2 linked regions of the Homo sapiens genome follow. The protein of the gene in region 1 interacts with the protein of each later gene in a pairwise test. Each region holds a gene or a part of one and is shown in the gene's direction. Other genes may lie near its edges.

Region 1 (4,124 bases):
AGACCTGTCACCCGGCCCTCGAGGGGCTCCCTCCCCGCCAGTGCTGAGGACGCGCGCAGCCTACCTGGAGCTCGCCCTCGGTGCGGTGCAGTCCCAGGCGCCGCAGCCCCACCGCCAGGTCGTTGACACACAGGCCGCCGTCCCGGTTGACGTCGAGCGTCTGAAAGAGTCTCCACAGGCGCAGCCGGTGGTCCGGGCCCCCGCAGATAGCGCCGCCGCAGGGGTCCCCCACGGACGCCGGCGATGAGGCAGACGAAGAGGCGGCGGTGGCGGCGGCGTCCGGCGGCGGGGAGGCCACACAGCGGCACAACACACTGCTCACCATCGGGCGCGAGGCAGGGGCTCCGGGCGCGGGCGGGAGCGGGGGCGGCGGGCCGGCGGTGACCGCGCGGGAGGCAAGCCAGGCGCTCTGCAGCTGGGAGCGCGGGCTCGGAGACGCCGGCAAGCTGGCGGAAGGGGCGGCTTCCGGGAGCCCCGCCCCTCCGCGCCCCGCTTCGCCGGCCACGCCCGGGCGCACCGAAGGCCAGTCACAGGCTCGGATGGGGAGGAGGGAGGGGCGGAGCCTGTCTAAGGACAGCCCACGCGCCACGGACTACCCGGATCAATGGGGTGGGCGGGGTCACCCGGCTCCGCCTGGGGCCGATTCAAACTGAGGGAGGCGGGGATTGGCTGAGCCGGGGGCCAAGAGAGAGAAAATCACGCAGCGATAGGCATGAGTAATGTGATTGGCAGGCGGAAGGCCCCGTGTCCAGTTTCCATTGATGAACTAACTCTGTTTAGACTGCGGGATCTTAAGGATGGGAGGAGCGGTAGTGTACGGAGAGATCGTAGCCTCCAGTGGGAAACAGGATTTGTGTGAGAGCATTTGTGAACTGCAGTTGCGAGGCAGAGTTTGTGCCGGTGGGAGGAATTAAAAGTTAATTGACCCATGGGTCACGGCCGAAAGCACTAAGTATCCTCAGGAAGCAGGGTTTTGGTAATCTAACTCCCTAAACCACCAATAAAATAGCTGAATTTAACGGCTTAATAGTCGTAATACTGACAATTGAACGACAGAATGATTTTCCAATGGAAGTGAATAAAGGTTAGGTGGGCGGGGCCCTCTGGGCGACGGACACAATTTTAGACCAATGATCAGGCGAATTACAGTAAGCAGGCGTGCTCTTTAGCTGAGCGACAGATCGAAAGAACCAGTGATCGACGTGATATTTGAGCAGCTACCAACCGGGAAGGCCGGTTTTCCCGGAGAAGCGCTGGGAGGCGGGAAGAGGGGAAGTGGGCGGATCTCCGCACACCTCGGCGGAAGAGGCAGATTCAGGAAGCCATTACGCTGCTGGCTGGCAGCGGCCGGGCCGGTCGGGGCTGGGCCCTACGCACTTTGCGTAGCGAGGGGGGTTACCAAAGGCCTAGTGCTTGGCCTCGAGCAAGCCTGGCCTATCCCCTGTAGGGGGTGGGTGAGGGGCGAGGCTGAGGAAGAAGAGAAGGGGAATTGGGGCGCTTGAGGGGATTATAATTTCTTTAAAAAGAGGGGAGGGGAGAGGCCATGGCCGTCCCAGCCAAGAAAAGGAAGATGAACTTCTCAGAGCGGGAGGTGGAGATCATCGTGGAGGAGCTGGAGCTGAAGAAGCACCTGCTGGTGAACCACTTCAACGCCGGGGTACCCCTGGCCGCCAAGAGTGCGGCCTGGCACGGCATCCTGAGAAGGGTCAACGCCGTGGCCACCTGCCGCAGAGAGCTGCCTGAGGTCAAGAAGAAGTGGTCTGACCTCAAGACCGAGGTCCGTCGCAAGGTTGCCCAGGTCCGGGCCGCCGTGGAGGGTGGTGAGGCGCCGGGGCCCACTGAGGAGGACGGAGCTGGGGGGCCTGGGACAGGCGGTGGCAGTGGTGGCGGTGGCCCAGCTGTAGCCCCAGTGCTGCTGACCCCCATGCAACAACGTATCTGCAACCTGCTGGGCGAGGCCACCATCATCAGCCTGCCCAGCACCACAGAGATCCACCCTGTGGCCCTCGGACCCTCGGCCACCGCAGCCGCAGCCACGGTCACCCTGACACAGAGTGAGTGACCTCTCCTGCCCAGGCGGCGTGCATAAGTGGGAAGGGCCAGCAAGCTCTGGGGTGGCCTGGGGAAGGTTGGCTGCCAAGGGTCAGAGGTCAGATGGGGGTCTTGGAAGACCATGAGGCCTTCCAAGAGCAGCACCCAGACAGAAGTGATCTTGCTCTCTTTGGGACTTCCTCAGCACGTGGGCTGGACTTCTGACGTGCTGGATAGCTCGCCACTGAGCATTGCCACCATGTTTGTCCATGACTTACCTCCACTTGCCGAACTGGGTGGTCCTTGAAAACAAGAGACCGTGTCTGTATCCCCACAGGACTTTTCACAGGGCCCGGCTTGTAGTAGACAGCCAGGCCATATTTGTTGAAAAAATTGATGGGAATAATACTGCCCAAGTGAGACAACGATTCTGGATTCTGTTTTCAGTGTGGGGGATCTTTCATCAGGTGCTGCTCAGGAGCCTCATGGTTCCTGGTGTTAATCTACTCCATTCATTCATTCATTCATTCATCAAACATTAGCACTTATTCTGTACCAAACCCTGTGCTGGGCACTGGGATTACCAAGTTGTCTAAAATACAGGCCAGTTATGTTCTAGTAGGACAGAGATGACACATATAGGAATAGCTTCGCCATCAGTTGGGAAAACCTCAGGCCCCGGAAGAGGAAGGGGGCTTCTTGGTGGCATAAGGACACATAGCTGACATTGGCGTTGAAGGGTGGAGGAGCTTGACCTCTCCCACATGCGCGGAGGCCCATACAGCCCAGCCAGGATCCTTTCCGTGGTTCTCAGGAATGACAACAGAACTAACTTTGGTTGGATTTTTTAGTTCAAAGAAGAGTTTGTGCCCTGTTACCTCTGCTCGTTTGTGATGACCGTGAGCTGGATCATTCAGTGATTCTCAGTGGGGGTTGGGGGAGTTGGGTGGATGTGCGAGTGCCATCCCCTCACAATGCGTATTTCTCAAGAATACACTGGGGTGGGGTAAGGGGGACAAACACGGGTCTAGGTCAGATGCTGTTCTGGAACAGGAAGGATGTTTAAGTATCGGATTGACCCAGATGATGACAGACAGGGAGACATTGACTGGGTACTTTAGCTACTGCTGCCCCATTCCCACCTCCTTTTCTGCTTCGCCATAGGGGCCTAGGAAGTCAAGTCAAGAAAGCATCAAAGGGCTGGCATGGTGGCTCACTCCTGTAATCCCAGCACTTTGGGAGGCTGAGGTGGGCAGATCAGTGGAGGTCAGGAGTTCGAGACAAGCCTGGCCAATATGGTGAAACCCTGTCTCTACTAAAAATACAAAAATTACCCAGGCTTGGAGGTGGGCGACTGTAGTCCCAGCTACTCGGGAGGCTGAGGCACAACAATCACTTGAACCTGGGAGGCAGAAGTTGCAGTGAGCCGAGATCGTGCCACTGAACTCCAACCTGGGTAACAGGGCAAAAGAGCAAAACTCCGTCTCAAAAAAAAAAAAAAAAGCAGAAAGCATCAAAGGAGGTAGGACTAATGTGGCTGCAAAGAGCGTGTGTAGAGTCCCACCCAAGATGCCTGCTGCATGGTACCACAGAGAGCATGTGACCCAGCCTCTGGGGTGCCTTTCTTTCTTTCTTTCTTTTATGAGATGGAGTTTTGCTCTTGTTGCCCAGGCTGGAGTGCAATGGCATGATCTCGGCTCACTGCTGCCTCAGCCTCCCAAGTAGCTGGGATTACAGGCATGCGCCACCATGCCCGGCTAATTTTGTATTTTTAATAGAGACGAGGTTTCTCCATGTTGGTCAGGCTGGTCTCGAACTCCTGACCTCAGGTAATCCACCCACCTCGGCCTCCCAAAGTGCTGGGATTACAAGCGTGAGCCACCGCGCCCGGCCGGGGGTGCCTTTCTTAGCTAGGAGCAGCCCAGCGTGGAGGTCAGGAGCACATCGGGCTCTGCTGTTGGGGAGACCTGGGTTTGCCTCTTGGCTCTGCTGAATGAGCTCTGTGACCTTAGCAAGTCATTCTACATTTCTCAGTCTGTTTCCTCATCTCTGAAAAATGAAGATGACAGCACCAACCTCTTGGTGTCATTTTG
Region 2 (3,196 bases), on another chromosome or scaffold:
TCATCTATCCATCCATCCATTCATCCAGGCATCATCCACCCACCACACCCACCCATCCACCCAGCTACCCATTTATCCACCCATCTATCCATGCATCCATCTCTCCATCCATCCATTTATCCATCCACCCATCTATCCATCCATCCAGCCAGCCAGTCACCCACCCATCTGCTCACCCACCTATCTACCTATCCATTTATCCATCCATCCATCCATCCATCCATCCATCCATCCATCCATCCACCCATTCATTCATGCATCCATCCATGCATCTGCTCATGCATTCATCCATCCATCCACCCATGCATCCGCCCATGCATCCATCCAGCCACCCATGCACCCATGCATCCATCCATCCATCCATCTTTCCATTAATCTGTGCATCCATCCACCCATCCATCCAATATTTACTCAGCATCTCCCCAGTGCCAGACCCTGTGCTAGATGCTGGGCACACACAGTCCCGGATCTTAAGGCTGCACTGTCCCCAGTACCATCACTGGAATTTAATCATTCTTCTCCAGTTTCCCAAGGACCTGTCTTGGGGAAGAGGACAGTTTTGGGTTAAAATATCCATCTCTTCACACCCCTGCAAGAAGTGGCTGACTTTCCTAGAACCTCTTTGTATCCAACCTTCCTGCCTCTCACCACACTCCTCCCGTCCCTAACCCCAATTCCTCCTTCTGAGTGGATTCACTCTCATTTTATAGGTGCTTCCCAGGGGCTGACTGTACCAAGGGTTGCCCCAGGAATCATCTCTGCACAGGTACTCGGGAGGAGAGGGGAGTCTGTGCCCTGGGAAGACTGAAGGGCTCATGGGCTCTTCCATTTCTGGCCTGAGCCAGGATCTCCGGCTCTCCAGGGCCCCACAGTGTTCATGTCAAGAAAGTACTAACCCAAAGTCTACTATGTGAATGGTGCCCTCTGGAGTTGTGCAGGATACTACTTGGGTGGCAGGCAGCTCTGGGGTCCCGGCGTTCTCTACAGGAGGCATCACTGGAAGCTAAGGTTCTTCTCTTGCTTTTTTTTTTTAGCAGTCCCCTGGCAGTGTGCCCACAGCAGCCCTGCCTGCCCTGGAACCACTGGGTCCCTCCTGCTATCAGCTGTGCTGGGCAACAGCACCAGAAAGGTGTCTGAGTGACACCCCACCTAAAGCCTGTCTCAAGCCCTGCTGGGGTAAGAATTCAGGCCAGGCCTCAGTCCTGCAGGATGTAGGGAGGGTCGACTGACTCAACCTCCAGGAGGGCATGGATCTCCATTGGGGGTCATCAAAGGAATCTCAATACAGCTTTCCTCATTCTTTGCATGGTCCACAAAATTACGGAGACTAGTAACCCCTGAGTCTATGGTATCACTGACAGCCATAGCAGGTAAAGGATGTGAGACTGGGATTCAAGTGTGTATATGCAGGGTGGGAAACTGATGTCTCAGCCTCTCTCCCATAGTGACTTTGAGAGGTGGGGTGGGAGCAATAACCCCAAGCTCTCTCTATTTGTCCCCACAGGCCACTTGCCCCCACAGCCGAATTCCCTGGACTCAGGACTGCTTTGCCTTCCTTGCCCTTCCTCCCACTGTCACCTGGCCAGTCTTAGTGGCTCTCAGGCCCTGCTCTGGCCTGGCTGCCCACTACTGTATGGCTTGGAATGAGGCAGGAGTGGGAAGGAGATGGCATAGAGAAGATCTAATACCATCCTGCCCATTGTCCTTACCGTCCTGCCCATACAGACTGTGGCTCCTTCCTCCTTCCTGTGATTGCTCCCTCCTGTGTGGACGTTGCCTGGCCCTGCCTCGATGCCTCTCTGGCGCATCACCTGATTGGAGGGGCTGGTAAAGCAACACCCACCCACTTCTCACACTAGCCTTAAGAGGCCTCCACTCAGCAGTAATAAAAGCTGTTTTTATTAGCAGTAGTTCTGTTGTCCATCATGTTTTCCCTATGAGCACCCCTATGCCCACTCTAATATTCAACAATTATAGACAATTTGCCCTATCATTTATTTACATCTATGTATCTACCATCTAATCTATGCATGTATGTAGGCAATACATGTATCTAAACAATGTATTTGTCAATGCATCAATTTACCTACTCTATGTATGCATCTATATGTGTATTATGTATGCGTGCATGCGTGCGCGCACACACACACACACACACACACACTGACATTATATCATGGCATTTTATTCCTAAATCTTCCAGCATGCATCCCCAAAAAACAAGAAACTTGTCTTACATAATCACAATAATATATCCACATCTAAGAAAATTTACTGTAACTTCTTAATCTAAGAAAATTATGTATTTTTGTCATATGTATTTTGTCATATGTATTTTGTATTTGCATATGTATTTTGTATTTGCATATGTATTTTTGTCATAGCAGCAAACAGAGTGAAATGCCATTTTTCATATTCTGCTTTCCATTTATATGTGCTTTATTTATACATGCTCCAGGGGCATGTTTGCTTGGTCCTTTTGGCAGTAAGTTCCAAACCTTCTCAATTCTGTCCCTTCAAATAAAGGTCTAGGCCCTTCCTGAGAAGTCTCAGGATGTGGAGAAAGGGAGGAATATGGGGGAAAGGCGGTGAAGAATCGGATATTCAGCAAGGAGGATAGGCTCATCCTTCCAAATTCTTTCCCTTTTGAAAGTCAGGCGATGGATAATGATGGTGCAATGCTGGTCGGCGGGCGGGGAGGTGGGGGCATTGTTTACTCCTATCTGGGATAGGTACTGATCCAGAAGACGTCATTCAAGAGGCCTCTTCATTATCAAATACTGTGCTGTGCTGAACTGTGCTGTTAAATAAGTAGCCACCAACCACATGTGACTATTTAAATGTAATTCACATTAAAAAAAAAAGAAGAATGCAGTTCTTCACTCACATTAGCCACATTTCAAATGCTCAGTAGTTACATGTGGCTTGTAAGGACTATCGAGCATTTCAGTCATTGCAGAAAGTTCTATGGGACTGCACAGCTCTAGAATGAAATTTCAAGGGTAATAGAGCACATCTTGCCCCTGCCTTGCCTTCTATACTTTCAAGCTGGAGGTCCTGCTAGGCAGAACAGAAAGGAGCTGTCTCAGCTGAGGCCTCATGGTTGTGGTGGTAGTGGCAACCCATCTTGAGCTGCTGCTGTGAAGATGCTGGCTGCAGATGGGGAGGCATGGCTGGGGTTGTGTGCTCTGCAAGG

Evidence for each region.
Region 2: the proteins of NAIF1 (region 1) and PAX4 interact in a two-hybrid assay, tested with the Homo sapiens proteins (one large-scale study listed by BioGRID).

What each region holds. Positions count from the first base shown.
Region 1 is NC_000009.12:128,064,521-128,068,644, reverse strand, and holds the start of NAIF1 (nuclear apoptosis-inducing factor 1), read left to right. Parts: upstream 1-1,324; 5' UTR 1,325-1,543; coding exon 1,544-2,054; intron 2,055-4,124. Other genes in the region: mitochondrial adenyl nucleotide antiporter SLC25A25, read right to left, coding at 65-325. UniProt on the Homo sapiens protein: Induces apoptosis.
Region 2 is NC_000007.14:127,609,515-127,612,710, reverse strand, and holds the end of PAX4 (paired box protein Pax-4), read left to right. Parts: intron 1-710; coding exon 711-766; intron 767-1,034; coding exon 1,035-1,176; intron 1,177-1,504; coding exon 1,505-1,647; 3' UTR 1,648-1,725; coding exon of another isoform or gene 1,726-1,859; 3' UTR 1,860-2,419; downstream 2,420-3,196.